Linked DNA regions of Homo sapiens: all the other regions are linked to region 5. Evidence: fine-mapped expression QTL. A gene starts in region 5. Each other region holds a variant in brackets. All regions are shown on one strand. Distances are between the middles of the regions.

Region 1 (5,074 bases), 68 kb after region 5:
GGCCTCTTCAGAAGCTGAGCAGGTGCCAAAATCATGCTTCCTATAAAACCTGCAGAACTGTGAGCCAATTAAACCTCTTTTCTTTATAAATTATCTAGTCTTGGGTATTTCTTTATAGCAGTGCAAGAATGGACTAATACACCTACCATATGACCCACCCATTCAATGCCTACGTATTTACTCAAGAAAAATGAAAGCATATGTCCACATGAATATACTTGTACACAAATGTTCTTAGCAGATTTATTTGTAATAGCCCAAAAGTGGAAACCCAAATGTCCATCATCAGGTAAATGGTTAAACAAATTGTGGTACAGCCATACAGTAGAATAAATAATATTCAGCAATAAACAGAAATAAACTATTGATACATACAATAATACGGATGAATCTCAATTATGCTGAGTGAAAGAAGCTAGACTCTTCCCCACTTCAAAAACAGTACACACATACACTGCATGACCCCATTTATACACAATTCTAGAAAAGGTAAACTAATCTATGGTGACAGAAAGTAGATCACTGGTTTAAAAAAAAAAAAAAAAGCAGATCATTGGTTATCTAGGAACAACGGATAGAGGTAAGACAGTGACGAATTACAAAAGAGCCTGAACAAACTTTCAGAGATGATGAATATGTTCACTATCTTATTTATAACTACCAAAACTAGGGGTGACAGTTTGACAGTTATACACATATGTCAAAATTTGCCATAATTATATACTTCAAATGTGCAGTTTATTGTATGTTAATTATCTCAAGTTATTTTACAAAATTATTCTTTAATGCTACTAGCTCTGCAACTCTGATCATTGATTTTAGGCCAATTTATGAATCACACCACAAATCTCATTACTCTGCAGACATCTTTGCTTTTGATTTTTAAAAAATATATTACTTAAACTGGTGATTCCTTTGTTTGCCAGACCGTAAATGAACTGAGTTTTTAAAAAATGAAGTCAAATCTGTCGTCATTGGTTACATATATCCTAATTGCAAGTATTCAAAAATTCTGAAGTTAATTTCAAAGAAGTATTTCCCACATAACACCAGTCACCTCTGAGAAAAATTAGGTGGCTGCAGGTAAAAGGAAGAGAGGAGAGGGTTCTGAGACCTTTCACTGTGTATCCTTCCAAACATTTTGAACTTTGTACCCTATCATTTACTCAAAACCATATAAAATTCAAATTTAGGCAGGGCGCGGTGGCTCAAGCCCGTAATCCCAGCACTTTGGGAGGCAAAGGTGGGCAGATCACGAGGTCAGGAGATCGAGACCATCCTGGCTAACACAGTAAAACCCCGTCTCTACTAAAAATACAAAAAATTAGCTGGGCATGGTGGCAGGCGCCTGTAGTCCCAGCTATTCGGGAGGCTAAGGCAGGAGAATCGCCTGAACCCGGGAGGCAGAGGTTGCAGTGGGTGAAGATCACACCACTGCACTCCAGCCTGGGGGACAGAGCAACACTCTGTCTCAAAAAAAAAAAAAAAAAAAAAATTAAAAGGGAATTTAAAAAGTGTTCTCCCAACATTTTAAGTAATAATATAAAAGCAACAATATAGAGCCTCCCAGAATGAATAAAAGAAATAATACTTCCATAGATGCAATAAATTTGGTTAAGTTTTAATAACTTAATAGTCATACCACATATGTAATCTCAAATTGTTTGAATGATCACACTCCACATAAAGTGGCAGTCATTTGTAAACATGCCTGCACATCCTCAGAAAGGCAGAGAAAAATCTAATTTTCATCTAGTGGTCCCTGTGGTCCTAGTAATTATCACATTTGGGATGTATTTGCTTCCTTTCTCTTATCGAGTTTTAAAAGGTCTTTTAGTTGATAAAATGTTTTATCATTTCTTGAATTAATATTTCAAAAGAATGTGTAGTTTATTTGGCAAATAAATTTGAGTTTTTAATATTTCCTTAGGACACAAAGTATTGTAGAATGTTTTAGAGTCACATAGGGACCTGGGTTCAAAACCTAGCGGTAGTTATAGGTGACTCTCGGCTATTACAAACCCATGTCCTTGTTTATGAAATGAAGATAGAAGAGACTATATGACAGGTTTGCTTTAAGTGCTGAATAAAATAATATATAACACCTAACACAAACACCTGACACCTTATCAGATGTCAGTTCTCTTCCTCCAAACAGCTCAGTGTTAAAGGCAATATTCAACTCTAAGCGGCAAATTGATTTTTCTCCTTTTTAAGGTATTACTCAGACAATATATTTGTAATTTTTAACAGATCCCTTCTTACTCATCCATACTTTCTCTCTCAGTGGGTCATGTTACATACAAAAATAAAGACAGCAAGAAGAGCTCAGACGGTGGAACCAGACTGCTTGGGACTGAAATCGGCATTTGCCACTTACCAGGTGTGTGACCGCAGGCAAATGACTTAATCTTTCTTTGCCTTGATTTC[T/C]TTACTTGTAATATGGAGATTTATGGCATAATAGTATCTCAAGATTGCTATGGAAGTTAAACGTTTAAGTTAATGTAAAGTGCTTAGAAAGAGGCTGGCATATAGTAGTAATTATGCAAATGTTTGTTAAACAAAATTAAGTTGATACACACTTAGGGGTTTCCCCCACCCCACTTAGTTCTCAATACTGAGAATGCGGGGGAATTTGTTTTAAATGTTTACAAATGTTTACAAATCTTAATTTTTTTTCTATATTTGATTATTTTAAAGAGGAAAGAAGGTAGCTCTTAGAACAAATTTAGACTTTAAAAAAAATTCTCAATCTGTACCCTGACTGTTGTCCCTGATACTGTTATCAGGCACTAGAAAAAAAGCAACAACCCATAATTGGTTTACCAAAAACATCACTCAACTGTTTATGGACGATAATTAGCAATAACGGCTGTCAGTGCCACGGTTCCTCTGTAAAAACGGAGACAACTGTATCTACTTTATATGATTGTTACAAACATTTAATATTATTTGTAAAGCACTTAGAACAATACCAGAGCAGAGTGAACATTTAAAAAATAGCTAACATTTATTAGGTTCAGAATTTGAGCCCAATCCTGGGCAGAATCCACTTCTACACACTACAGTTGGCCCTCCCTATCTGCACATTCCGCATGTGTGGATTCAACCAACTGGAGATCGAAAACAAATTTAATTTAAAATAATGCAACAATAAAAAAACACAAAAAATGCCGTGTAACAATAATTTACACAGCACTTACACTGTGTTAGGTATTACAAGTAATCAAGAGACAATTTAAAGTATACGGAAGGATGTGTGTAGGTTGCATGCAAGTACTACTCAATTTTATATAAGAGATGTTGAGCAACTGGGGATTTTGGTATTTGTGGGAGTCGAGGTTCTGGAACCAATCCCCCGCAGATACCAAGGGATGACTGTGTATTACACTGCCTCTCGTTGTTTGTTTATTTTTTTCAACCAACATTTAACATATGCTTACTGTGTGCCAATATGCTCTCCTCACCAATCTTGATTTTAAAAATGATAAAATGCTAACATCCTCTAAAAATTAAAAATCCTTCCAAAGTAAGCAGAATTTATACCTTAATACTTTATTAATATAATAAAACCATGACCAAGGCTTCAGTCAAAATCAGTTCATATTGAACAACATATTAATATTTTGCTGATGGGAGTTTAACACTTTCTATTGCAAAACTCCCCAATGATATCAAACACAGTACTTCTCAGTCAGAATTCTGAAGTCAACACGTTGCCTGAACCTCAAACTCCAACACAAAAACCCAAGACTAGCCAATTCTCTTCAAATCAATTCCTGTAATCCTCTTCATTCCATGCTTTGTAAAAATGTTATTTGTGTAGCTGGCTGTCTTCATTATACAGGACCTTTTAAAAATGTATTTACTTATTTATTTTAGAGATAGAGTCTCACTCTGTCACCTAGCCTGGCTCAAGCAATCCTCCTACCTCAGCCTCCTGAGTAGCTAAGACTACAGGCACACACCACCATGCCTGGCTAATTTTTCAATTTTTACTAGACATGGGGTCTTGCTATGTTTCCCAGGCTGGTCTTGAACCCCTGGCCTCAAGTGATCCTCCTGCCTCAGCCTCCAAAGTACTGGGATTATAGGCAAGAGCCACCAAGCCCAGCCAGGAAACACTACTTAGGTATCTTTCTATCTCCCACAGCACCTAACAGTACTTTGCACATAGCTAGCCTATTACCAAACATCTTAAATAAATTGCAAATTTGACTCTCCTTACAACCATAACATAATATAGCACACATATGTTTCAGTCAATCTAACCTATCTGCTTTTCTCAAAGGACTTGCTATTAATAGAGCCCCCTTCCTGGTCCTTGATTTCTGCTCATCCCTTGAATACCCATCTCCCCTCTCTTTAGTAAATCTTACTACTAATTTGCATCTCAAAACAATTTACCCAGGAAACCATTCGGATAACCAAAAGAAGCAAATAGATAATCAAAAAAAGCAAAGAGTAGGAGTCAATAGGTTCTGAGTTATACTACGAAGTGTTCCATATGCCTTATTGATAGCTACTTTTTGTCTCTGTGCTGTCTGAAATGCTTCCTTTTTTCTACTTGTCCAAACCATCTTTTAAGGGCCCAGCTTAAGCCCTCCCTGTCCTCTTCACCTGGTCATCTTACCATGTATAAACGATAATGGAAAAGAATTATCGTCTGTGGACTGTCAGACGATGTGCTAGACATTTCACATACACTACCACCTAACCCTGGCTACACTGGAATGACAGCACTTGCCATCTCTCCACTCATCACACAGTCACCTTTCTGAAAGGATATTACCTCATAGAACAGCTTCCTAACTATTCCATATTTTTACATGTGCTCTCTGCCACTAGACTACAATAACCTCAAATATAGGAACTATGTCTTCTACTTTATTCTGCACTCATCTTCTTTTCCCTCCACCTTTCCCCTCATCTTTAAAAATATACCCCTCCTATTTCTCAATCTCTTCTCATTACTACTGCAATGACTACTAATAAAAGCTACTATTGACCAGGCGCAGTGGCTCACGCCTGTAATCCTAGCACTGTGGAAGGCCAAGGCAGGCAGATCACCTGA
Region 2 (5,074 bases), 330 kb after region 5:
TGGCCTGGGGCTTCAGAGGGCCCACCCCTGGGAACCCACGGGATGGCAAGCAGGGCCCATGGGCTGGGGAGAGGAGGGAGGTAGTGGATGGGGGGTTGGCCTCCTGTCCATAGGTTCCAAGAGGCCAGGGAACTGAATCTCATCTGTCCCCAGGCTGTCAAGTCCAAGAAGCACATCCCCATCCAAGTCATCTTGGCCACTGGAGAGAGCCTAACCGTCCCCGTGGACTCAGCCTCCACATCTCGGGAAATGTGCATGCACATCGCTCACAAGCAGGGCCTCAGCGACCACCTGGGCTTCTCCCTCCAGGTCGCCGTGTACGACAAGGTACCAGCCAGGCACCCTGCCCGTCAGCCGCCTCCCTCATACACCCAGGGAGAGCACCCTGAGGCTCAAGCCCTCTCACCTTTCCAGCCCGGCCACCACCTACCCTCCCAGCTGCCAGGCACAGCACTGCTTACCCTCCCAGCCACCAGGCACAGGCAGGTGCACACACACAGAGCAAACAGCCTTTCCTCCCGCACTCATATGGTCACCTTGCAGCTGCGCCTCAGCCCCAGCAGTGCCGCATGCACACCTGGTCCCCCACCCAGCAGCCACGCACAGACATCAGGCACTCACACCAGTCTCCTGCTCCAAACTCCCTCATGCCCAGGAGCTGTGGACACCCCTGCAGCAAACATGGAGGGTCACACCAGCACAGACCCTCACCGCCCACATAGGCACCCCCAATTCCACGCCCACACCCTCAGACTCACACACCAGTCATCCAACCGAGGCGCCGGATGAGTCACATCGGCCAGACTCATGTCTGCCTCCTTAGGGAAGGGGCTGCAGGGAGAGTAATGGGGAGTGGCAGATGGGCCATTGCTGTGTGGAGAAGCCCTTCAGGTGTCCACACGGGCTCAGCAGTGTCCACTCAGCCCACGCTGGGCTCCAAGGGCCCCAGGCCCTGTCTTCTACGTGCACACGCTGACGGTGGGCGTCCCCGTGGGGTGGGGCATGCAACAGCCGCTAACCCCTGCTCCCCGACTCTGGCCTCAGTTCTGGTCCCTGGGCAGCGGGCGCGACCACATGATGGATGCCATCGCCCGGTGTGAGCAGATGGCCCAGGAGAGGGGCGAGAGCCAGCGCCAGTCACCCTGGCGCATCTACTTCCGGAAGGAATTCTTCACCCCCTGGCACGACTCCCGGGAGGACCCTGTCAGCACCGAGCTTATTTACCGCCAAGTCCTCCGAGGAGTCTGGTCTGGCGAGTACAGCTTCGAGAAGGTGAGGGGCCTGAGAGCCAGGTCCACCCTAGGCTTTGCCATCAGGAAACATCCCATAGAGGAGGCACCCAACTGGCTTCTGAGGCCAGGTAGAAGGTGGGGGGGCAGGAAAGGGGGTCACAAGGGTGTAGGTCCCTTCCAGGCCCAGCCTCTGTTTCCTCCTCCCTTAGGCCACAGGTATGTCCAAGCCTCCGGGGTCCGTGGTTCTGGCAGCAGGTCCCAGAGGGCCCAGGCCTTGCCTGGCCTCACCTCTCCTGCTCTGTTTATGGGGCAGTGAGATCTGGTGGCCAAGAACATGGCCTTGGAGCCCTAACACCTAAGTCTGAATCCCACCTCCCCATCTTCTTGGCATTGTGACCTTGGAAAGTCCTGTCACCGCAGAGCCCTGGGCCCTCATCTGACTGGGGGGCTCGGGAGGGGCTCTCACCTGGACCGTGCGGAGTGTACCGGGAGCTCTTTTGTAGGGGATTGTGAGAAAGCAGAGTGATCGTACCCCTGAAGTTCTGGGGGCAGCAGGCACAACCCTCCCTGTGCCAAGTCAGGCAGATGCTGTTCCGGGACCCATTGGAGGCGGCCATAGCAGTGCAGGAAGCCCGCCTGGAAGAGGCATGGGCAGGGGGTGGCAGGGGACCAGGCTCCAAGAGGCTTTGGTCTTCCAGAGGGAAGGGGCTCCTTGGGTGCTGCCCAGCTGGGCCCCAGCAGAAACTCCGCAAGGGGGGCTACTGGTCTCCCTTGACAACCAAGGACTGGAACTCAGATGAGGAAACGCCTTGTCACTCAGAGCAACCCTGCTGGGTCCACCCCAGAACTGGAGAGCAGCCGTTGTCCTCAGGCAGAGGGCCTGTGAGGCTCTGGCCAAGGCCTCTGGGATTCCCAGCCTGCATGGTGGCCCAGTCAGGGCATGCAGGGAGGGGGAAGGTCCTGCCCGAGCCACAGGTTAGCTCCCCTGTGATGGGGCAAGAGCCCGGCCACGGGACAGGGGCATCCTGGGGAAGGGGGGAGCTCTCACTTGTCTCACTCGCCCCCGTGGGTGCCCTGGGCTGTGCAGGAGGAAGAGCTGGTTGAGCTGCTGGCCCGGCACTGCTACGTGCAGCTCGGCGCCTCAGCAGAGAGCAAGGCTGTCCAGGAGCTGCTGCCCAGCTGCATCCCCCACAAGCTGTACAGGACCAAGCCCCCAGACAGGTGGGCGAGCCTCGTCACTGCCGCCTGCGCCAAGGTCAGCCTGCATGCAGCTCAGGCACCCACCCGAGGGCTCTCCTTTGGGAGGTGGGGGGGCTCATGGTATACAGAGGAGATGGATTCCCTCCCCACAACCCCC[AC/A]CCCCTGGGGAACAACAAGCCTCAGCTTGACAGTTAAGTAGAGCCCTGTCCCTTCAGGTTTAAGCAGTCCCACTCAGTTCAGCTCTCTGTCACAGGCCCATGCCACCTTCTTCCTTCCAAGCTGGCATCTTGGATGGGTCCCTGTGCTGGTCTGCACTGTGGTGTCTGGCCAGGCCCTCGCTTCTTGGGATGAGAGGGCACCTGCAGTGGCTGACTGCTGACCATACCATGGCCTTGGGGGCCCCCCTGCCTGCCTCTGGGCCTCAGCATCCCCTCGCTGGGTGCATGGGAACCCCCCAGGCCAGAGTGTATGGACATTCTAAACATTCGATACATATCGAATATTTTCAAATCACCCTTCAGATTTGATGCATTTATTACATTCCCAAAGCCAGTATATGAATAGTACCCAGCCACTTTTCTAAGAAATAACGCTGTATTCAACAGTGAAAAGAGAGTTCGGTTGGATATTATAGTCGGTGATGGACACAGCACAGTGGTGCTGGGGAGAGGAACGGGTGAAGGTGGGGAGTTAGGAAAGAGGAAGGAAGGAGACTGGAAGACAAGGAGCTAGAGGTGGTCCCCGAGAGAGGCCCCCAGAGACACAGAAGAGCTCCAGAGAAGAAAGAAGAGAGGCACCCGGGACACAGACTCGGAGCAAGATGCCCTCCTGCACGGAACGAGTCACAATCCTGCAAGGCATAGGCTGGCAAGAGCGAGCCTGGGCTGGGGCACACAGACAGCGCCTTCCACAGCTAGCGCAGCCCCGCCCTACAGATGCTAATGAGGGGACGGGATGGCCTTCCTCCCTCCTCCTAAAGGGTCCCCACACCCCTCCCAGGTAGAATAGGGTGGCGCCAGGCTGGACGTGGTGGCTCATGCCTGTAATCCCAGCAGTTTGGGAAGCCAAGGCAGGTGGATCATCTGAGGTCAGGAGTTTGAGACCAGCCTGGCCAAGGTGGCAAGACCCCCTCTACTAAAAACACAGAAATTAGCCAGGCGCAGTGGCACGCGCCTGTAGTCCCAGCTACTCGGGAGGCTGAGGCAGAAGAATCGCTTGAACTCGGGAGGCGGAGCTTGCGGTGAGCCAAGATCGCACCACTGCACTCCAGCCTGGGTGACAGAGCGAGACTCTGTCTCAAAAAAGAAAAAAAAAGGATAGGGCTGCACCAGTCCCTGGGGACGTCCCAGGTGCCTCCCTACAGGATCCATCTCCAGACACTGGCCTTGTAGAGCCTTCTCAGAAGGATCCATCAACTCTTTTACCCTGAGCACTAGGTGAGGGATTCACTAGGGAAGGCAGGTGACGGAGGTGACATCCAGGATCCCCCCTCAGGCCCCATACACTCAGAAGCAAGTCACACCACTGGCCGTGCGAGAGCAGGTGGTGGACGCCGCCCGCCTGCAGTGGCCGCTGCTCTTCTCCCGGCTCTTCGAAGTCATCACACTCTCAGGTAATGGCATCTGACAGGGGGCAGGGAGCAGGTATGGGCTGGGCACCCAGGGGTCCCATGCAGCCTTCACACTGCCGTCTCTCCTGGCCAGGCCCCCGCCTGCCCAAGACGCAGCTGATCTTGGCTGTTAACTGGAAGGGGCTTTGCTTCCTGGACCAGCAGGAGAAGATGCTGCTGGAACTCTCTTTCCCAGAGGTCATGGGTCTGGCCACCAACAGGTGCGGGCCCTGAGGGAAGATCTCTTCTTACACACTGAGTCCTTGTGATGCATCTGGGGGCTCGGGGAGAGATGGGGAGAGGGGCAGTGTGCCGTCCCGGGTAACAGGCCGGGGTGGAGGGACAAGAATCTACGTATGCGATGGCTTCTGTACTTCGGAGCCCCACCCTCCTGCACCAGGCCGTACTGCCCATGAAGTACTCCATTGGGGCATCACGCGTTGCACTGGCAGCTTCTCTTTGAAACCCAGGTCCACCCGGAAGGGGCAGGGAAGCGTGCAGCCTCTGGCGGGCACTTATTTAGAAGGCTCCTTTCTTTGTCATGGACGAGAACTGGTGGCCTGGAGGGTACAGGTTGTCTGGGAAGGCGACAAGGGACAGTGCCTGGTGTGTCCTGGGGCACAGGGCAGGGCTGGGGGTCCTCTTAGGCTGGGGCTGACCCCCACTCCCATGGGTCTCCATGGATCTCATTGACTGGGAACTTTTCCATGCCCTTTGGGAAGTCCCACCCAAGCCCTGCCAGAGCGCCCCTTGGTTGAAGCACACAACAGAGTGGCACATGCATCTCTGGGCTGTGCCAGGTGTACAGTGGCCACCACTCCCCACTGGCCACCTCTCACTGAGGCTGACCATGCTGGGCACTTTCCTGTATGCCACGAAGTACCGACAGCATCACCCATTCTGCAGATGAGCGGATGAGTAAACTGAAGCACGCCGAGGTTAGGTGGCTCAGAGTAAGCACATGGCAGAGCCGGCAGCTCATCTCAGCTCTGACCTTTGCAGTGTCCCTGCGGTGTCACTGCACACCAGCCAC
Region 3 (5,074 bases), 26 kb before region 5:
ATGAGGTCTCGCTATGTTGCCCAGAATGGTCTTGAACTCCTGAGTTCAAATGATCCTCCCACTTTGGCCTCCCAAAGTGCTGCGGTTACAGGCATGAGCCACTGTGCCTGGCCAATTGTGTGGTTTTGAGAGTTCTTCCTGGTACTGATTTCTACTTTTATTCCACTGTGACCCAAGAAAATGCTTGGTATGATTTCGACTTTTTTGAATTTATTGAGTCTTTTTTTTTTTTTTTTTTTTTTGAGAGAGTCTCGCTCTGTTGCCCAGGCTGGAGTGCAGTGGCGCGATCTCGGCTCACTGCAAGCTCCGCCTCCCAGGTTCACGCCATTCTCCTGCCTCAGCCTCCCGAGTAGCTGAGACTACAGGCAACTGCCACCACACACCCGGCTAATTTTTTGTATTTTTAGTAGAGACGGGGTTTCACTGTGTTAGCCAGGATGGTCTCGATCTCCTGACCTCGTGATCCACCCGCCTTGGCTTCCCAAAGTGCTGGGATTATCGGCGTAAGCCACCACACCCTGCCGAATTTATTGAGACTTTAATAAAGTCGAGCATAAAGTCTCACATTGCTTTATGGCCAAACACATGATCAATTATTTTTTTTTTTTTTTTTTTTTTTTGTGACAGAGTCCTGCTCTGTTCCCCAGGCTGGAGTGCAGTGGCATGATCTTGGCTCACTGCAACCTCTGCCTCCCGGCTTCAAGTCAGTTCTCCTGCCTCAGGCTCCCGAGTAGCTGGGACTACAGGCGCATGCCGCCACACTCAGCTAATTTTTGTATTTTAGTAGAGACGGGGTTTCACCGTGTTGCCCAGGCTGGTTGCAAACTCCCGAGCTCAGGCAATCTGCCGGCCTCAGCCTCCCAAAGTGCTGGGATTACAGGTGTGAGCCACGGCACCAGGCCCATGTGATCAATCTTAAGAGTATATTCTGGGGGCAGATGAGAATATATATTCTGTGGTTGTTGCGTAGAGAATTATGTAGATGCCTATTAGGTCCAATTGGTCAAGTGTTGAATTTTAAGTACAGAATTTCTTTGTTAGTTTTCTGCCTCTATAATCTGTCTCATGCTGTCAGTGGGGTGTCAAAATCTCCTACCATTGTTGTGTGGCTGTCTAAGCCTTTTCCTAGCTCTAAAAGTACTTGGTTTATGAATCTAGGTGCTCCAATGTTGGGCGCATATATATTTAGGATAGTTAAGTCTTCTTGTTGAATTGAACCATTTATCATCGTGTAATGACCTTTTTGTCCTTTTTTACTGTGGCTGGTTTAAAGTCTCTTTTATCTGATGCAAGAATAGTGACCCCCTGCCCCACTCTTTTTTTTTTTTTATTTGTGTGATAGATTTTTTTCCCTATCCCTTTACTTTGAACCTATGAGTCCTGTTACATGTGAGAGAGGTCTCTTGAAGACAGCAGAAGGCTGGGTCTTGTTTTTAATCCAATTTGCCACTCCAAGTCTTTTAGGTGGGGTGTTTAGGTTGTTTACATTCAAGGTTAATATTGAGACATGAGGCTTTATTCCTAACATGGTGTCATTAGCTGGTTGCTCTGTAGTTTGGATTGTGTAGTTGCTTTACAGGGTCTGTGGGCTATGTGCTTATGTGTATTTTTGTGGTAGCAGGTGTCACCATTCTTTCATTTCCATGTTTAGAACTCTCAAGACTCTCTTGTAGGGCCAGTCTGGTGATAACAAATTCTTTTAGCAGTTGCTTGTCTGGGAAAGATTTTATTTCTTCTTTGCTCATGTAGCTTAGTTTGGCAGGATATGGAATTCTTGGTTAGGATTTTTCTTTTTTATTTTTTTTCTTAAAGAGACTGGGTCTCACTATGGTTTTTTGGTTTTTGTTTTTTTGTTTTGAGACAGAGTCTTGCTGTTGTTGCCCAGGCTGGAGTGCAATGGTGCAATCTCGGCTCACTGAAACCTCTGCCTCCTGGGTTCCAGCAATACTCCTGCCTCAGCCTCCTGAGTAGCTGAGATTATAGGCACCTGCCACCACGCCCGGCTAATTTTTGTATTTTTAGTGGAGATGGGGTTTCACCATGTTGGCCAGGCTGGTCTGGAACTCCTGACCTCAGGTGATCCACTCACCTCAGCCTCCCAAAGTGCTAGGATTACAGGTGTGAGCCAC[C/T]GCGCCTGGCCTGTTTTTTTGTTTGTTTTTGTTTTAAACAGGATCTTGTTCTGTTGCCCAAGGTGGAATACCGTGGTGAGATGTCAGATCACTGCAACCTCTGCCTCCCAGACTAAAGCGATTCTCTTGCCTCAGCCTCCGGAGTGGCTGGGACTACAGGCGCACACCACCACACCCAGCTAGCTAATTGTTGTATTTTTTGTAGGAACAGGGTTTCATCATGTTGCCCAGACTGGTCTCAAACTCCTGAGTTCAAGCAATCTGCCTACCTTGGCCTCCCAAAGTGCTGGGATTACAGGTGTGAGCCGCCGTGCCCAGCCAGGATTTCTTTTCTTTTCTTTAAGAATGCTAAAAACAGTCCCCCAATCTCTTCTGACTTGTAAAGTTTCTGCTGAGAAGTCTGCTGTTAGCATGATGAGTTATATGACCCTTTCTCTAGCTGTCTTTAAGATTCTTTCTTTTGTATTGACCTTGGAAAGTCTGACGGCTATGTGCTCTGGGGATGATCATCTTGTACAGCAGGAAGAGTCATTCTCACCCTCGATCTTAGCAACCTTAGCATATGATTTTTATTCCCTTGCTTAAATTAATAACTTTTACCTTTTCGCTTTAAGAAAGCACTTTACAGCTTCTCTGGCATATCTGAATTGCTAGCATCATTACACTTGTGCTTTGGGGCCATTAGTAAGATAAAGGTTACTTGAAAACAAGCACTGAGATACAGTGACAGTCCGTGACAACTGAGATGGCTACTAAGTGACTAATGGGTGGGGAGAATTTAAGCATGAATATGCCGCACAAAGCAAGAATTCACATCATGGATGCTACTCAGAATAGTGTGTAATTTAAAACTTATGAATTGTTTATTTCTGGAATTTTCCATTTAATATTTTTAGACTACAGCTGACCATGCGTAATTGAATGTGGAAAGGAAAATTGCAGATATGGGGGGACTACTGTATTAAAAAACTAGGACAGAAAATTCTGTGGCCTGAAAGACTTGATCCTTCAGGAAAATCTGAACATCTTTGCTTTGTAGTTCAAATGTCAGTAGGTTAAGCATACTGCCCTTGAATGTAATTGTTTCTCAAATCTTACAAGAGCTCAGAGATGCAAAGAAAGGAGCCAAGTGTCATGTTAAACAGTGTTTTGAGTAAGAAAACAATTCTATTCACTTTTTTTTTTTTTTTTTTTTTTGAGATGGAGTCTTGCTCTGTTGCCCAGGCTGGAATGCAGTGGCGCAATCTCGGCTCACTGTAAGCTCTGCCTCCCGGGTTCACGCCATTCTCCTGCCTCAGCCTCCCGAGTAGCTGGGACTACAGGCACCCGCCACCACGCCCAGCTAATTTTTTGTATTTTTAGTAGAGACGGGGTTTCACCATGTTAGCCAGGATGGTCTCAATCTCCTGACCTCATGATCTGCCTGCCTGGGCCTCCCAAAGTGCTGGGATTACAGGCGTGAGCCACCGCGCCTGGCCTTCTATTCACATTTAAGGGAGTTTTTAAGGCTAGGCACAGTGGCTCACACCTGTAATCCCAGCACTTTGGGAGGCCAAGGTGGGTGGATCACTAGAGACGAGCCTGGCCAAAATGGTGAAACCCCGTCTTTACTAAAAATACAAAAAAAATTAGCTGGACGTGGTGGTGCACGCCTGTAGTCCGGGTACTCGGGAGGCTGAGGCAGGTGAATCACACTTGACCCCAGTAGATGGAGGTTGCAGTGAGCCGAGATTGTGCCACTGCACTCCAGCCTGGGTGACAGAATAAGACTCTATCTCAATCAATCAATCAATCAATCAATCAATAAAGGAGTTTTCAAATTAGAGTAAGGAATAAGTAATGAATTATATTCACATTTGCTAGCAGATCATAGTCCTGTCAGTTTATAAAAGCTACTGTCTCAGCCTCCCAAGTAGCTGGAACCACAGGTACACACCACCACGCCCAGCTAGTTTTATTTTTTGTAGAGATGGGGTCTCACTACATTGCCCAAGATGGTCTCAAACTCCTGGGCTCAAGCTATCCTCCTGCCTTGGCCTCCCAAAGTGCTGGGATTATAGGTGTAAGCCACTGTGCCCAGCCAGCCGACTACATTTTATGACTTATAAGCTGAATCCTCACAGCAGTCTTGGCAAGACAGGATTGTCACCCCCACTTTGGATGGGAAAACCAAGTCTCAGAGGAGAAAATAATTTGCCAAAGGTGACACAGCTGGCTTGGTGCCTGAGTCCATGCTATTTCTAGTCCATGCTATCTGCCTCATCTCCATTTTAAATACAAGCTACTAGACGCTTCTTAAACACATCTGAACGCAGTACAGTTCCAACAGATGCCCACTAATCTTGTCATTTTCAAACATTCTAGCAGTCCAGATGCCTCCTTGAATAAGCAGACTCCTTGAGGATAGGGCTTGTGTCCTTGTCTCAGGATGTGCCCTGGTCCCAGTAAGACAGACACGGCCATCTCTTAGCAAGAGTGTCAGTCCCTGCCATGTCCACAATGGCAGTCTGGGCCCTTTTACCGCAGTAAGCAAGCACAGGGGTGCCACGCCTCCTCAGAAAAAGCCTTTGCAATGAGGATTCTCACCTCCTCACTCACTGAGCTTGCCCTGCCCCTGCTGCAAGCTGCCACCAGGGCGGCACTCTGCACAGGTTATGAATGACGTGCCCATTGTGTGTCTGCCCAAGCTGCTCCTACCAAACCTTTCCCTGCCTCCTGATCAAGTTCCAGAAGCAGCTTCCAGCTCCTCCACTTACACTGGTGGCCCAGCTCTGTTTTCTCCCTTCCATGTCTACCCCATAAGCACTGCCTTGCCCTGGCTCCCTCTCACCATCTACCAACACAGCTGCACAGTGTACAGAGCACATCTGTGTGGATTCCGTGACACTGTCATGGAAAACACCTGCATATTCACCCCCAAGGTATGAGAAATAATGATGGGCCAT
Region 4 (5,074 bases), 38 kb before region 5:
AGTTCTCAGTAATATTTTTCTAGGCTCTGTATTCCATTCCACTGGTATATTTTTCTGTTCCTGTGCCTACTGCACTGTTCTTATAAATTCTCTTTGATATTTTTGTTTCTTTATTCTTTGACATTTATTTTACCATTAGTTTGTACGTTTCCATGAAAAATCTGGTTAAGAATTTGATTTAAAATAGGTTAAACCGGCCAGGTGCCGTGGCTCACGTTTGTAATCCCAGCACTTTGGGAAACCAAGGCAGGAGGATCACTTGAGCCCAGGAGTTCAAGACCAGGCTGCGCAACATAGTGAGACCCTGTCTCTACAAAAAATTTAAAAAAAAAATATTAGCCGGGCATGATGGCAGGTGCCTGTAGTCCCAGCTACTGGGTCGGACTGGGGTGCTGAGGCAGGAGGATCGCTTGGGCCCAGGAGGCCAAGGCTGAAGTGAGCTTTGATTGTGCCACTGAACTCACCTGGGTGACAGAGTGAGATCCTGTTTAAAAAAAAAAAAAAAAGATTAAATTAATAGGCTAATACAGGCAGAATTTACATATTTCATAAGATAATCCCTAAGCATTGCATATTTTTATGCTATTGTAAATAGTATTCTTGTTTCAACTTCCAAATGTTTGTCTCTAAGTATATAAAAAGATCATTGATTTTTTTTTTTTTTTTTGAGACAGAATTTTGCTCTTGTAGCCCAGGCTGGAGTGTAGTGGTGTGATCTCAACTCACTGCAACCTCCGCCTCCTGGGTTCAAGAGATTCTTCCACATTAGCCTCCTGAGTAGCTGGGATTACAGGCGCCTACCATCACACCTGGCTAATTTTTTTTGTATTTTTAGTAGAGATGAGGTTTCACCATGTTGGCCGGGCTAGTCTCAAACTCCTGACCTTAGGTGATCCACCTGCCTCGGCCTCCCAAAGTGCTGGGATTACAGGTGTGAGCCACTGCGCCCGGCCAATTGATTTTTTTTTTAATGTATCAATATTGTATTCTGCAATTTGTATTCACCCTTCCTCCATCCTTTTGTTCTGTCTGGTCCCTTGATGGGTATATGAGGCCCACCCACGTTGGTGGGGGTGGATCTGAGTCTACAGCTTCAAATGCTCCTCGTTCCTGGAAACATGCCCACAGACACACCCAAAAATGCTTAACCAGTGACCTGTCATCCCTTAACTCAGCTGACACCTAAAATTAACCACCACGTTTTCCAAATATTTGAGGGTTTTCCAGACTCTTTTTCTATTGATTTTTAACTTAATCACACTGTGGGCACAGATTACAGCTTGTATGGCTTAAATACTTACCAATGTACTTTCCAATGGACTTGTAGGGCCTGAAATTGATTCCGTCTTGGCAAGTGATCTGTGTATTTGAAAATAATGCTTATACTGCTGTTACTCAGTAGAGAATTCTGTAAACGTCAATTAGGTCAAGTTGGTTAATAGCATTGTTCAAGTCTTCTATATCTTCATTGATTTTAGTCTACTTATTCTAGAAATCTACAGAAAAATTTCCTAGAACTGAGTTTAGCATGACTGAGGAATGATATATAAAAACTGATATATAAAAATGAATTATATTTTTATATACTACCAACAGACATTTGGAAATTTAGATAAAAACTTGTTACATGATGTCAAATAAAAAATCTGGAACTCAAGTTCACAGAATAGACAATGTTAAGAAAAATAAGAAGAAAAAATCTGGACTTAGTAAAGGGAGACTTTATTTGAAAGGATTGTTGCAAAGTGGTGGGGAGGGGTGTACTATTGCAGCAGGGAGAATGCACTGAACATAAGATCTGTTTGTCTCAGGGTTAGACAAAAGGGGTTTTCTTTTATAGGGAGGGGAAGCAAGTAAAAGACAGGAAGTGGGATGAAGGGGAGTAGCATGGTGGGACAGTAGATCCAATCAGTGACTTACCCTGAGTCCAGTCTATTCTCTCGAGGGGTGGAGGGGAGGGTGAGCCAAAGTTTGTAAAGCAAAGTCTGGTTCACAAGCATTTTGTTCCCATTGATCACTGGGGACAAGCAGTTTAGCTAATTTATGAGGCAAAGAATGGGAATTTGGAAGGCCTGTGTCTGGCCTCGACTGGGGTCTTCAAGGGGAGCATTCATGAGTCATACCAGGAAGGATGGTTCTCTGCAGTAAGCCATTTTCCAGAACACCAAGGACAAGGGATTCCTTTAAATGTATCTATTTCCTAGGATCACAGTGCTCAGGTAAAATTCAACATTGTCAGTAGACAAGAAAA[CAG/C]GGGCCAGAAATGTGAAAATACAGGAAATGCTCAGTATTGTTTGAGGATCTCAAGTGTAAAGGCAAGACAGGAGGTAGACTGAAAAGAGTTACAGTCAAGTTTGAACATTTGAGTGCCGACCCATCAGGGTTACATGACAGGCGAGTCTGTGGGCTCAAGCCCGCACCTCAGACAGGGCTGCTCGGGCCCCCTACTCCTAGCGAGGGCCCTGTTGCTGGTTCCTGGGGCTTGCACTGATAGTGGCTAGATGCCTGGCAGCACCAGCTACTGACCAGACTATGAGAGTGTGTTTGTCACCAAAAGGTCAGCTCAGAGAGGCGGTATGTGGGGCAGGTGGCTCTTGCTTCAAAGCCCCCTGATAAGAGAGGTATTAGGTTGGTGCAAAGGTAATTGTGGTTTTTGCCAGTAAAAGTAATGGTGGCCAGGTGTGGTGGCTCAAGCCTGTAATCCCAGCATTTTGGGAGGCCGAGGCGGGCGGATCACAAGGTCAGGAGTTTGAGACCAGCCTGGCCAATATGGTGAAACCCCATCTCTACTAAAAATACAAAAAGTTAGCTGGGCGTGGTGGCGGGCGCCTGCGGTCCCAGCTGCTTGGGAAGCTGAAGCAGGAGAATCGCTTGAACCCGGGAGGTGGAGGTTGCAGTGAGCCAAGTTCGCACCACTGCACTCCAGCCTGGACAAAGAGTGAAACTGTCTCAAAAAAAAAAAAAAAGTAATGGCAAAAGCTGCAGTTACTTTTGCACCAACCTAATACTTTCTTCTCCTCAGTCTGTGGCTGCATCACAGAGAGTAGCCCACCTGTGCTAGAGCTGAGGACAGGAAGCTGCTGCCGAGCTGTGGGGATGGGGAGGGACTCCACTTGGAAGCCTTATGTAGCCAGGGTTTCAACACTCCCCAAGTGTGAGCGCTGTTTCCTGTTACAGGCAGAGTGGGCTTCCTCCTCAGAATCACAAGTCTTTCTGCAAGGCGAATATGCCTTATGTGTGCCTACCTTTCAAGAAGCAATCCTACCTGGCCTGTCTATTCCTCAACACCTTTGCTTTCATACCAGGAACATAAAAGAAAAGCCCAAAGCCATTAAAAATAAAGGAAGTAGCAATTAAAACACCCAAGGGCACTAAACTGCTATTAGAAGAGGAATCTAGCCTCTCAGCAATTTCTAAAAACGTACTTTGAGGGAGAAACAAGAGGTCACTCTCTCAGAGAAGATGAGGCACCAGGAGCCAACCTGGAAGGCCTTCATGACGTGGGTGTCTACCTCGGACGAGGCTGTAGGAACAGCTGTGACCACCAGAACAGCAGGAAGCTGTGCGGTTGAAGCCCCAGTCTGAATCCACCAGGCTAAGCTGTGAGCAGGGACCACAGTCAACTACCCAGGCTCTTCCCTCTGGCTGGATCACCCTCCCCGTTCCCCAGGCCTTTCCTGCCAACGTTTCTTCTATCTCAGGGTACATCTCTCTGGTAGCTCCCTGGGGATGGGCTCCATCTTACTCATCTGTGCTTGCTACAAAGTAGGGCCTTGATGGAGGTTGGTCATCCAGACATAACCCATGCCCAGGACGAAGCATAAAAACACTTGTACAATGAAGACTGGTTCAATGGTCCATTCTGTTTATTCAGAACGGTAACATAAATACACCTTAAATATTAACATTTTTTATATACAGAAATGACCCCACTCCCCAAAAAGTTTGAAAAAATATTGTCTCCTCCTCCTTTATAAAACCCTAGATGACCTATGAAGGCACAGCCAAGCCCTTGATGCATCTTCCTCAGCACAATTTGGCCAACGCTGGAGGGAAGGTCAAAGAGGTGGAAGGAAAATGTTATGCTGAAAATCCCTTTCCAACAAGGGTGCCAAGCGCCGGTCTTGAACGAAGTACCCTGCCTAAGCATCATTTCCTAAAGCGCTTGAAGAGCGGGTGTACATGTTTGCTGGGCGCCTTGCTCCGCGATGAGTGGTACTCCATGTACACAGTGTCGTCGGCCCCAGACATAGAACTCATGGTGCCAAAGCGCCGAGATGCCTGCCGGGAAGGGGGAACCAGCCCATGTTAGTCTCCAGAAGAAAAGATACTCCTTTTATAATACTTATAATCACAGCAAATTTTATAAGACTTACATAAATTTAATACATCATTTTTAATAATGTTTACAGATCGCTTACTGTCTCAGGCATTGTTCTAAGCATTTTACATGCATTATCTCCTCTAATCCTCAAAACTACTATAATCCACACCTGAAAGAAGAGGAAACTGAGACACAGAGAGATTAACTAACCTATCCAAGATCACATAGCTCTTAAGGAGATGGGATTTGAACACCCAGGTAGCCTGGCTTCAGACTGTTCTTAACCATAATGCCACACTACCTCACTTAATAACAACTTCTGAACAAACTTTTTTTTTTTAAGAGAGAAACAGGGTCTCGATATGTTGACCATGCTGGTCTCAAACTCCTGGACTCAACTGATCCTCCCGCCTAGGCCTCCCAAAGTGCTGGGATTACAGACATGAGCCACCATGCCTGGCCTGAACAGAATTTTTTAACAGTTAGGGCAAAAGTTCCTTAAAATCTCCTGAGACACCACCATAAGGCTTTGAATCAAGTGGAAGGACAGAAAGCCCTGGGCTTGACTCTTGGCTCCTCCTGTCCCTGAGTAACCCTGAGGCAAGTAATTAATGTCTGCACCTCAATGACCTCATCTGTAAAATGGGGATAACCACATCAGTGCTGACATTGCTATCCTGTGAGGAGAATGAACCAGGCACCTCCTTAAAACCAGTGAGAGCAATGAGAGCACTCTCCTGGGTTCCCATG
Region 5 (5,074 bases):
CTATTAATCACATGGAACCCTCTTTGTTTTGTCAAAAACATCTGAAGTTGTTTTTGACTTTCCCTCATGGAACTTGTTGACTATTGGTCTCCTGCAGATACTTAGCTTTAGACAGAGTTTACCACCTGTGTTAGTCAGCTTGGGCTGCCATAATAAAATTCCAGACTGGGTGGCTTCAACATTAGAACTGTATTTTCTCAGAGCTGTGGAGGCTGAAAGTCTATGATCAAGGTATCAGCCGATTCAGTTTCTGGTGAAGGCTCTTGTCTATGGACCACCTTCCCATTGTGTACTCACATGACAAGAAGGGCAGGTGAGAGAAAGCATGCTCCGGTGTCTCTTCTTAGGAGGACACTAATCATAGCGGATCACGACCTCATTTAGTCTTAACTACTTTCTTACTCCAAATACATTACCATTGGATATTAGGTTTTGAAGACAAAATTTGAGGGGAACACACACAATTCAGTCCCCAGCACACTCACTTTGGGCTGCATTTCCAAATTCTCCCTGGCTACAATGGGCCTGAATTAGTAGCCCCTCTGTGTTAATACCCACAGCTGGGAGCGGCTCATGAGAAGCGTGGCCTCACCCAGAACACAATGCTGGATCCAGAGTGTAGCGGCTCATGAGAAGCATGGCCTCACCCAGAACACAATGCTGGATCCAGAGTGTAGCGGCTGGGGTAATCAGTCGTTATGCTCCCCACAGGAAATCTGAATGGCACATTCTCATGGCTGCCACAGGCTGACAACATGGAGCACCTATGCCTATTGTTACATTAGCAGGGCAGGTGGAATTGCTGGTCTCAGCTGTCACTTGCCTTAATAAACTGCATAATTCCATCAGGGACTCCAGTCTTGCTGAGCTTCCTGAGGTACTCGGTGATGTCACTGGTTTGCAGCCCAACGCTGACAGCTGCATACAAGGAGTAGGCAGTTAGTTTGTACTCATGCACATGGGTTGGTCGGCACACTGGCTCTGCAATAGCCACCAAGAAGTCTTGGGCATATTTGTAAACTGGAGAGAAGGCTTCCAAGAAGATATGGCCATCGGGAGCCTGAGAGATACCAAATGGACAAAACAGACAAGGAAACATGAGTTGCAGAGACTACTGGGCTCTTGCCCATATCATTATCAAGAAAGAATAAGCTGCCCAACACCACAGATATTCTTGCAAGCACTCCTTCAGACAACTGTGGGGCCTGTTACATTAATCAGATACAGAAGAGTAAAGAAAAATAGAAGAAAGTGTTTCCAAAGTCAACAGCTGTTTCCTACTATTCTGCACAGAGAAAGCCCATCTTACTGGCTATCCTCAAGTTACCTTTTGGCTAGATTTCAACTAAATGTATAACATTAATTATTTAAAGTAGAGCAAAAGCTTGCTACCGAACATGTCTTCCATTATTTGAGGAAACAAACTGTTACATGATAAATGCTATTTATTCGGCAGATAAAAGGATTCACTACATGGGGTAGGGCTGGGGAAGGAGTGAGAGTAAACCGAGGGGTTAGAGCTGTTGGAAGCCCAGGTCCGGCCGCCACACGTGTGCGCAACTGCTCGCTGTTGCCTTGGGCTGTTCCAACGTGTGTGGATGAAAATTCTCTCCCGGCCAGTTCTAGGGGCAGTATCCTGAATGTCAGTTTTGACTCTGAGGATGCCCAAGATTTAGCTGCCGCTCCGCACACTCCTGGGCCCTGCCCAAGCTAAGGGCATGCTTACCACCCAGAGGGGCCTGGAGGTGTGGTCGTCCTTCAGCGGCATTTGCAGCCTGTAGTCCTTGGCTCCATATTCATCCACTTTGGTGCCTGACTCATCCACCTGCTTCCCCGCCGCCGAGGGAACCGCTTCCTGAGGGTCGTTCCCCGGGGCGTCCTCTTCATCATCCTCTTCATCCTCATAGTGCCGCTTCCTGGATTTCTTCTTGTCTGCAAGATACCAACACAGAAGTAAGCCCAGCAGGAGCCTTCAGGGTTCCCTCCGCACCGCTTGGCAGCATTTCACCTGCGCCGCCGCAAACTCCTAGCTAAGAGCCACCTGCATCCCGCAGGCGTTGCGCCCCTCACCCGTCTCCCCTAGGCCGAGTTCGCTGGGCTGCGCCCAGGTCCAGCATCTCTCCCGCCCAAAGGCCTGTCCCAACGGGGTGCGCGCGGGAGGGCCAGCAGGGTCGGCCGGCGCAGAGGCCCGGAGCAGCTCCGAGGCAGAGCGGGGGGCAGGGCCGGCAAGGGCAGTCGTGGCTGAGCGTGCCCGCGCAACGTCTCACCGCGGTCCGCTCGGTCTCTTTTGCCCATGGCAGCTACAGCAGCAGAGAGAAGATGACCCCGCTCCCACAGGCCCGCCGCGGCATCCGCTCTGGGGGGACTTCCGGCTCAATCCGGAAGCTCCCTGTTGTCCACACAGGATGTCCCGCCTCTAGGCGCCGTGATGTGGGTGGCTGGAAGAGCGGAGAGCCAGCGACCGCCGATCTGTTAGCTCGTGCGACCCAGCGGCGGGGGTCCTCCACTGTTCATTTCTCTACAACTGAAGGAAAATACTGTGTGTTGAGCACCTGTGTAGTGCGCGAATTAAAGGCCTCATCCTTCTGGAACTTAAATTTTAATGAAGCCATGTGGGCAATAAATGTGTGTGTGAGAGAGAGAGAGAGAGAATGTGACCTGAGTCCATGGGTAAGGAAGAATTCTTTTTTTTAATTAAAAAAAATTTGGCTGAGCACGGTGGCTCACGCCTGTAATTCCAGCACTTTGGGAGGCTGAGGTGGGTGGATCACTTGAGGTCAGGAGTTCGAGGCCAGCCTGGCCAACATGGTGAAACCCCATCTCTGCGAAAAATACAAAAAAAAGTAGCCAGGCATGGTGGCACACGCCTGTAGTCTAAGCTACTTGGGAGGCTGAGATGGGAGAATCTCTTGAACCCAGAAGGTAAAGGCTGCACTGAGCTGAGATTGCACCACTGCACTACAGCCTGGGCGACAGGCCGAGAGTTCGTCTCAAAAAAAATTTTTTTCTTTTTTTTTTTTTTTTTTTTGAGACGGAGTCTCGCCCTGTCGCCCAGGCTGGAATGCAGTGGCGCGATTTCAGCTCACTGCAAGCTCCGCCTCCCGGGTTCATGCCATTCTCATGTCTCAGCCTAAATAAAGCAGATTACCCTCAATAATGCGGGTGGGCCTCATCCAAATCAGTTGAAGGCCTTAAGAGCAAAGACAGGTTTCTCAAGGAAAAAGGAATTCTGCCTCCAGACTGCAACACAGAAAGTTCTGACTGAGTTTCCAGCCTTTGGACTCAAAACTACAACATCAACTCGTACCTGAATTCCCAACTTGCCAACCCCCACAATTGCATGAGCCAATTCTTTAAAATCAATCAATCAATCTCGCTTGCTCAGTGGGCCTCTTGGTTCTGTTTCTCTGGAGAACGTAACACAGATTTTTGGTACGGGGAATAGGGTACTGCTGTAACAAATACCTAACAATGGGGAAGTGGTTTTCAAATTGGGTAATCGGTAGAGGCTGAAAGAATTTTGAGGCGCATGATAGAAAAGCCTCTATTGTCTTGAAGAGCCTTGGTAGAAGTATGGGCATTAAAGGTGATTCTGGTGACGGCTCAGATGGAAAGGAGAAATATGTTATTGAAACTGGAGGCAAGTGGTAGAGAGCTTGCCTGAATTGTATTCTGTTGGGTGGAAAGTAGAACTTATAAGTGATAAGCTTGGACATTTTGCTGAGGAAATTTCTACATGATGGTTCAAAGTGAGGCCTGGGCCAGGCGCGGTGGCTCACGCCTGTAATCCCAGCACTTTGGGAGGCCGAGGCAGGGGATCATAAGGTCAGGAGTTCAATACCAGCCTGGCCAATATGGTGAATCCCCGTCTCTACTAAAAATACAAAAATTAGCTGGGCGTGGTGTCGCGCGCCTGTAGTCTCAGCTGCTCAGGAGGCTGAGGCAGGAGGATCTCTTGAACTCAGGAGGCAGAAGTTGCAGTGAGCAGAGATCACGCCACTGCACTCCAGCCTGGGCAACAGAGCAAGACTCCGTCTCAAAAAAAAAAAAAAAAAAAACTGAGGCCTGCTTTCTCCTTATTGCTTATAGTGAAATGTGAGAAGAGATACACTGAAGGTGGAATTATTCAACAAAAAGGAACCAGAACTTGAAGATTTGGATCATTCTTATACTCACATTGTAAAAAAAAAAAAAAAAAAAAAAAAAAAAAAAAAAAAGAGAGAGAGAAAGTATGCTCTGGAGAAACACTAAGGATGTGGACAACCATTTATTTGCAAGAGATTAGGTGTGTGGCTTATAGACCCAATCACCCATCTCCACAGAAACCTGGACAGTTTTGACTAGGGTACATAGATGGGATGAAATGAAGGAAGGCTGTTGGACTCCCAGGATTCCACAGGTAGGAAAGGGATTGGCAGGGGCAGTTCAGAGGCCAGTGAGGCTGCTTCCGCCACCACAGGACTGAAAGGGACAGGCTTGGGTTTGAACCCACGGCCACCACCTCCTCAGTTCTGAGGGTGCGGGGCTGCAACCCCAGTGGGCCCTGAGGACAGAGGATCAAGCCAGTGAGGATTATTCTCAAGCCTTAAAATCCTGTCATTGGCCCTGTTAGGTGTCAGACTTTCTTGGCACCTCCAAGTCTTTTTCCTTCCCATTTCTCCCTTTTGGAATGGAATGTGTCTATCCTCTGCCTATACCATTGTAATTGGAAGCAGATAACTTGTCTGTTCTCATGGGTTCATAGATAGAAAGAAAATTTGCTCCAACAGGAAACCTAACCCAGAGTCAATTGATGTGGATGATTTGGGTGATGAGATTTGAACTGATATTTAGATGATACTGGACTTTGAGTTGATGCTAGAATGACTGACTTTTGTTGATGTTGAGATGGGGTGAATGTACTTTGCATGTGGGAAGGATATGAACTTGTAGGGGCCAGAGGACAGACTATGGGTTGAATTGTGTCCCCCACCCCTCAAAAAGTTATTTTTTTTGAGACGGGGTCTTGCTGTTGCCGAGACTGGAGTGCAGTGGTGCGATCTGGGCTCACTGCAGCCTCAACCTCCTGGGCTCA
Region 6 (5,074 bases), 50 kb after region 5:
TGGGTTCACGCCATTCTCCTGGCTCAGCCTCCTGAGTAGCTGGGACTACAGGCGCACGCCACCATGCCTGGCTAATTTTTTGTATTTTTAGTAGAGATGGGGTTTCACTGTGTTAGCCAGGATGGTCTCAATCTCCTGACCTCGTGATCCACCCGACTCGGCCTCCCAAAGTGCTGGGATTACAGGCATGAGCCACCACGCCCGGCCCAATGGGTTTCTGACACATGTTGGAAGGACACTGAATTGAGCACAAAACCAAAAAATACTTGGAAAATAATTTTTTCAAAAATCTTTTATCAGAAATGTTGAATTAAATACCTTATATGCTTATTCATGATATTTGAAAAATAATTACAGAAGAACATCCTCAATCAAAAATTCAAACATCTGTCATGGTGTTCTGTGACTAACTTTGTATGTTTTTAAGCAATGAATGTTGCCCTACTATAGAGCAGTATTATTTGAGGCTGACAAAAATAAATTTGATCGATACATAGAGTACAAGTGACAGCACCCAAAATAAAAAGTTGAAAGAAGTTCAGTAAAAGTACATCCAATTTGGAGCTGAAAGTAAGGCTGACTAGAGTGGAGAATTTGGGCTACAAGGGGGCACTGCTACTCATGACTACAGAAGAGGAAGTGGAAGAACAATTTTTAAAGTAGGGAGGTGAAGTCTAAGCTTACATACTTGCTACAATGACACACAGTGAAAGTGTCCTAGCCCCCACTTTCATCACATGGGCAAATATAAGTTCTTCATGAGGGTGTGTGTGTGTGTGTGTGTGTGTGTGTGTGTGTATTTGTTTTGTTAAGCAAGAAGTAGAAAATGTGTGATAAAGGCAAACTCTGGCAAGCAAATGTCAGAATTAAATCCCAGGATCAGTCTAAGTTTCAAAATTTAGCATCCAACTACTCAGTACCATTTTTCTTGATTTAGGATAGGGTGGGCCATTCGTGACTCCATTTCCTTCTAGTGTCTTCCTGTCTAACTAATTCCCTGCCTCATGCTGGAACCCTTAACACAAAGGAGAAAAGGAAAAAACAAAAAGGAGGTAAACAGGAAAACAAAATATGTAAACTGAACATACACAATCCATTCCCATACTTTAGTGTCTTTAAACTAACATTATACCACAATATACGACCAAGAGTTGTATAACATATTCTCCCTGAGCACCAATGATTTGCTGCTCTATGAATGATAAAATTAAATTTTATGATTTCTCTCTTGCCATCAGACTTTAAGCAAATCACAACACATCTTAACAGCTTATTTTGAATGTCCCTGCTGTTACGCATAAAATGATCATTCTAAAACTACAGCAACACAAAAAGTACTTTAATTCAAAGTCTATTAAGTAAATATAAAACATTTCATAAATCTGCTATATCATAAAATTTATTTATAAAAAGGTTTATAATAACACATAATAGAGAAAGTTTTTTCACTTCCATTCTATCCTTTAATTATTGCTGAAAAATGCTTTTAGTTTGAACTCACCCATTATGGCAAACAGCTCAACAATTTGAAAATTAGGAAAATGGTTCTCCCATCAGCATTCTTTATGGCCTGAGAAGATAAAACAGATCAGCATATTAATAAAAAGAAACAGAAAAGGAGCCAGGAAAAGAAAAAAAAAAGTCAGTTTAAATAATACTAATGAAAAATATACAATATGAATACTTTACACATTTCGCTAGGGGGAGGTGTTTTATATTGAAGGTTGATCATGTAGGCACCCCCTTGCCTAACACATACCAAAATTCCAGACTCCCAGAAGAAAAGCAGGTATTCAGCATAAACCATAGTGTTTGTACAAACCATTATCAGTTGGAGGCAGGAACTCTCCTGAAATCCAAGTTCTCAGGTGTCAGCCAAAGGCTAACTCCTAAGCAGGCCTTCTACAAATCAGCAATCAGGCCCACTACATTAACTCTTTTTCTATATAAACAGCAATAGGAAACTAATATGTTGGTTTAAAAAAAAAACTGCATAACGCAATAATTATAACTGTGTTGCTGGGTATACAATATATAATAATATAATTCACATAATATTAACAGCACACAGGAAAGGGAAAGGATAGAGTTACATAAAAGAAAGGTGTTTATGACCAAGTGCAGTGGCTCATGCCATAATCCCAGCACTTTGGGAGGCCTAGGCAGGCGGATTGCTTGAGCCCAGGAGTTCGAGACCAGCCTGTCCAACACGGTGAAACCCCATCTATACAAAAAAATACAAAAATTAGCCGGGTGCAGTAGTGCATGCCTGTAGCTCCCAGCTACTTGGGAGGCTTGAGGTGGGAGGATCACTTGAGCCTGGGAGGTTGAGGTTGCAGTGAGCTGTGGCACTCCAGTCTGGGCGACACAGCGAGACTGCCTAGAAGAAAAAAAAAAGTGTTTGTATACCATTGCAATTAAGTTGATATTACCTCAAACTATGTTATTATAAGATGTTAACTGTAATCCCCAGGTCAACTAGAAAATAAGATGAAAAATATGAGTGCCAACATGACACTATGAATGGAAAATTCCACAAACCTGTCCTCATGTGATATGTCACAGTCAAAAGGCAGATGCACAACTCAGTTTATTCAGCATCCCCCAGGAGAAAAGAGACCCTACCAGCCCCTTCCACTGTAATATATCTTTTCCATGCATGCCCAAATTCCCCCATGCAAGAGGCCTACAAGGGTAATAATAGAAACTTTGTTTCAGACACAAAATTATTTTAAAAATTGTTGGCTAGTACAGTGGCTCACACTTATAATACTAGCAATTTGGGGGGGCCAAGGTGGGAGGATCACGTGAGCCCAGGAGTTTGAGACCAGCCTGGGCAACATAGGGAGACTCCCATTTCCAC[CA/C]AAAAAAAAAAAAAAAAAGATTTAAAAAACAAAATGCCAGGTGTAGTGGTGCATGCCTGTAGTCCCAGCTAACTGGAAGGCTAAAGTGGGAAGACTGCTTGAGCCAGGGAGGTCAACGCTGCAGTGAACTATGATTGTACTCCAGCCTGTGTGACAGAGCAAGACCCTGTCTCGAAAACATTTAAAAAATTGTATAAAATTACCTTTAGCTATATGAATAAGATGTATATGAAACATAAAAGAATTTCATGTTTAGACTTGGGTCCCTTTCCCAAGATACCTCACTATGTATATGCAAATATTACAAAACATGAAAAAAATCCAAAAAACTTCTGGTCCCAAACATTTTGACCTGAATATGTTGCCTACAACAGACACTTTTTTTGGGGGACAGGAGGAGGGTCTTGCTCTCTTTCCCAGGCTGAGGTGCACTGGCATGATCACAGCTCACTGCAGCCTTGATCTGCCAGGCTCAAGCAATCCTCCCACCTCAGCACCCCCGAGTAGATGGGACTACAGGTGCATGCTATCACACCCAGCTGATTTTTAAAAAAAGATTTTGTACAGATTACCCAGACTGGTCTCAAGCTCCTGGGCTAAAGTGATCCTCCCAGTTTGGCCTCCCTAAGTGCTGGGACTACGAACCACAACACCTGGTCCACATTTTAAATTCGAAGACAAAATAGGTTGACAGTAAAAGGATAGAAAAAGATATACTATGCAAACAGTAGTCAAAACAGACCTGCAGTGGCTACACCACTATCAGGCAAAACAGACACAAAAATTGTTGTGACAAACAGCATTTTATAATGAAAGATAGCCAATACATCAAAAAGATATAGCAATTATAAACTTATATGTACCTAACAACAGAATCGCAAAATACACAATGCAAAAAAGTATAAAATTCAAGGAAGAAACACAATTCAAAAATAAAAGTTGGAGATTTCAATGCCCTGCGTTCAATAACGGATAAAATAAGTAGACAGAAAATCAATGAGGAAATACAAGACTTGTACAACACTATAAACTACTAGGCTTAACAAACACCTACAGAATAATCAACCTCAAAACAGCAGAATATACACTCTTCTCAAATACATATAGGACATTTCCAAGACAGACCAAATATTAGGTAATAAAACAAATCTCAGTAACTACATGGATTGAAATCACACAAAGTGTGTTCTCTGACAAAAATGCAATAAAATTAGAAATTGGCAACACAAGGATATCTGGAAAATTCACAAATATGTGAAAATTAAAAAACATAAAAATAATCAATGGGTCACTAGAAGGCATAAGGAAAATTAGAAAATACTTTGAGATAAAAATGAAAACACATCAAAACAAAATGTATTGGATGCATCTAAAGATAAAATTTATAACTGTAAATATTTACATTGACAAACAAGAAGGATGTCAAATCAATAACCTAACCTTTGACCTTAAAATACTAGAAGATGAGGAACAATTTAAATCTGAAACAAGCTAAAGGAATAGGGAGTAGAAAATAAAAATACCACTGAAATTTAAAAAAAAAATCAAGAAAACAAAAATTGGCCCTTTGAAAAGATCAACAAAACTAACAAACTTTTAGCTAATCAAAAAAAGAAGAGGGAAAACACAAATAACTAAATTCAAGAATTCAAAAGGGAGCAATTACACCAACCTTTCAGAAATAAAAAGGATAAGAGAATACTGTTAACAACTGTACATCAACAAATTAGATGACTGAGATGACACAGACAAATTCCTAAAAAGAAACAAATTATCAAAATCGACTCATCAAGAAGAAATTAAGAATTTGAACAGACCTATAAAAAGTAAAAAGACTAAATTAGAAATGAAAAATTTCTCACAAATAAAAGCCCTGGACCAGATCACTTCAAACATTTACAGAATTTACAAAAACTGGTTTTAAAAAAAAAAAAAAAAAAAAAAGAAGGAACACTTCCCAATTCATTGTGAAGCCAGTATTACTCCAATACCAAAACCAGACAAAGCCATCACAAGATGAGAAAACTAAAGATCAATATCTCATCAATACAGATGCAAAAATCCTCAATAAAATACTAGCAAACCTAACCTAGAACATTAAAAAACAAATTATATACCATGCACATTTGGGATATATCCAACAAAATCAAGGTTGGTTCAGCACATAAAATCCAATCAATGTAAAAAACCACATTAACAGAACAAAGAAC

Which allele goes with the higher level. Positions count from the first base shown, and alleles are read on the strand shown. Sizes are in standard deviations (SD) of each study's normalised expression. Not every link is listed here.
As copies of C replace CA in region 6, the expression in subcutaneous fat of the gene that starts at base 2,358 in region 5 goes down (moderate effect, 0.73 SD a copy in FUSION).

Evidence for each region. PIP is the estimated chance that this variant, and not a neighbour inherited with it, causes the effect.
Region 1: its variant is fine-mapped to the expression of ERCC3 in whole blood (INTERVAL, PIP 0.97).
Region 2: its variant is fine-mapped to the expression of ERCC3 in ovary (GTEx, PIP 0.96).
Region 3: its variant is fine-mapped to the expression of ERCC3 in whole blood (TOPMed, PIP above 0.99).
Region 4: its variant is fine-mapped to the expression of ERCC3 in whole blood (TOPMed, PIP above 0.99).
Region 6: its variant is fine-mapped to the expression of ERCC3 in subcutaneous fat (FUSION, PIP 0.95).

What each region holds. Positions count from the first base shown.
Region 1 is chr2:127,359,840-127,364,913 of GRCh38, forward strand. All of the region lies in intron 1 of MAP3K2 (mitogen-activated protein kinase kinase kinase 2), which reads right to left. LOC124906074 (a long non-coding RNA gene) reads left to right here and starts at 2,288. Exons shown (of 4, transcript XR_007087227.1): 1 at 2,288-2,383. The variant T/C (reference allele first, on the strand shown) is at 2,431.
Region 2 is chr2:127,623,049-127,628,122 of GRCh38, forward strand. It overlaps MYO7B (myosin VIIB), which reads left to right. Exons shown (of 48, transcript NM_001393586.1): 29 at 154-327; 30 at 1,045-1,272; 31 at 2,320-2,487; 32 at 3,927-4,044; 33 at 4,136-4,262. MYO7B-AS1 (MYO7B antisense RNA 1) reads right to left here. Exons shown (of 3, transcript XR_923314.3): 3 at 2,949-5,074. Among named protein-coding and RNA genes, the nearest start is that of MYO7B-AS1, 5.2 kb to the right of the region's middle. The variant AC/A (reference allele first, on the strand shown) is at 2,590.
Region 3 is chr2:127,266,114-127,271,187 of GRCh38, forward strand. The region is part of intron 12 of ERCC3 (ERCC excision repair 3, TFIIH core complex helicase subunit); the gene reads right to left. Among named protein-coding and RNA genes, the nearest start is that of ERCC3, 25 kb to the right of the region's middle. The variant C/T (reference allele first, on the strand shown) is at 2,130.
Region 4 is chr2:127,253,447-127,258,520 of GRCh38, forward strand. ERCC3 (ERCC excision repair 3, TFIIH core complex helicase subunit) reads right to left here. Exons shown (of 15, transcript NM_000122.2): 15 at 3,844-4,281. The coding sequence ends at 4,150. Among named protein-coding and RNA genes, the nearest start is that of CYP27C1, 36 kb to the left of the region's middle. RefSeq lists a silencer at 1,753-1,953. The variant CAG/C (reference allele first, on the strand shown) is at 2,252.
Region 5 is chr2:127,291,787-127,296,860 of GRCh38, forward strand. It overlaps ERCC3 (ERCC excision repair 3, TFIIH core complex helicase subunit), which reads right to left and starts at 2,358. Exons shown (of 15, transcript NM_000122.2): 1 at 2,268-2,358; 2 at 1,727-1,932; 3 at 824-1,060. The coding sequence starts at 2,295.
Region 6 is chr2:127,341,625-127,346,698 of GRCh38, forward strand. It overlaps MAP3K2 (mitogen-activated protein kinase kinase kinase 2), which reads right to left. Exons shown (of 17, transcript NM_001371910.2): 2 at 1,502-1,570. The coding sequence starts at 1,505. Among named protein-coding and RNA genes, the nearest start is that of MAP3K2-DT, 43 kb to the right of the region's middle. The variant CA/C (reference allele first, on the strand shown) is at 2,864.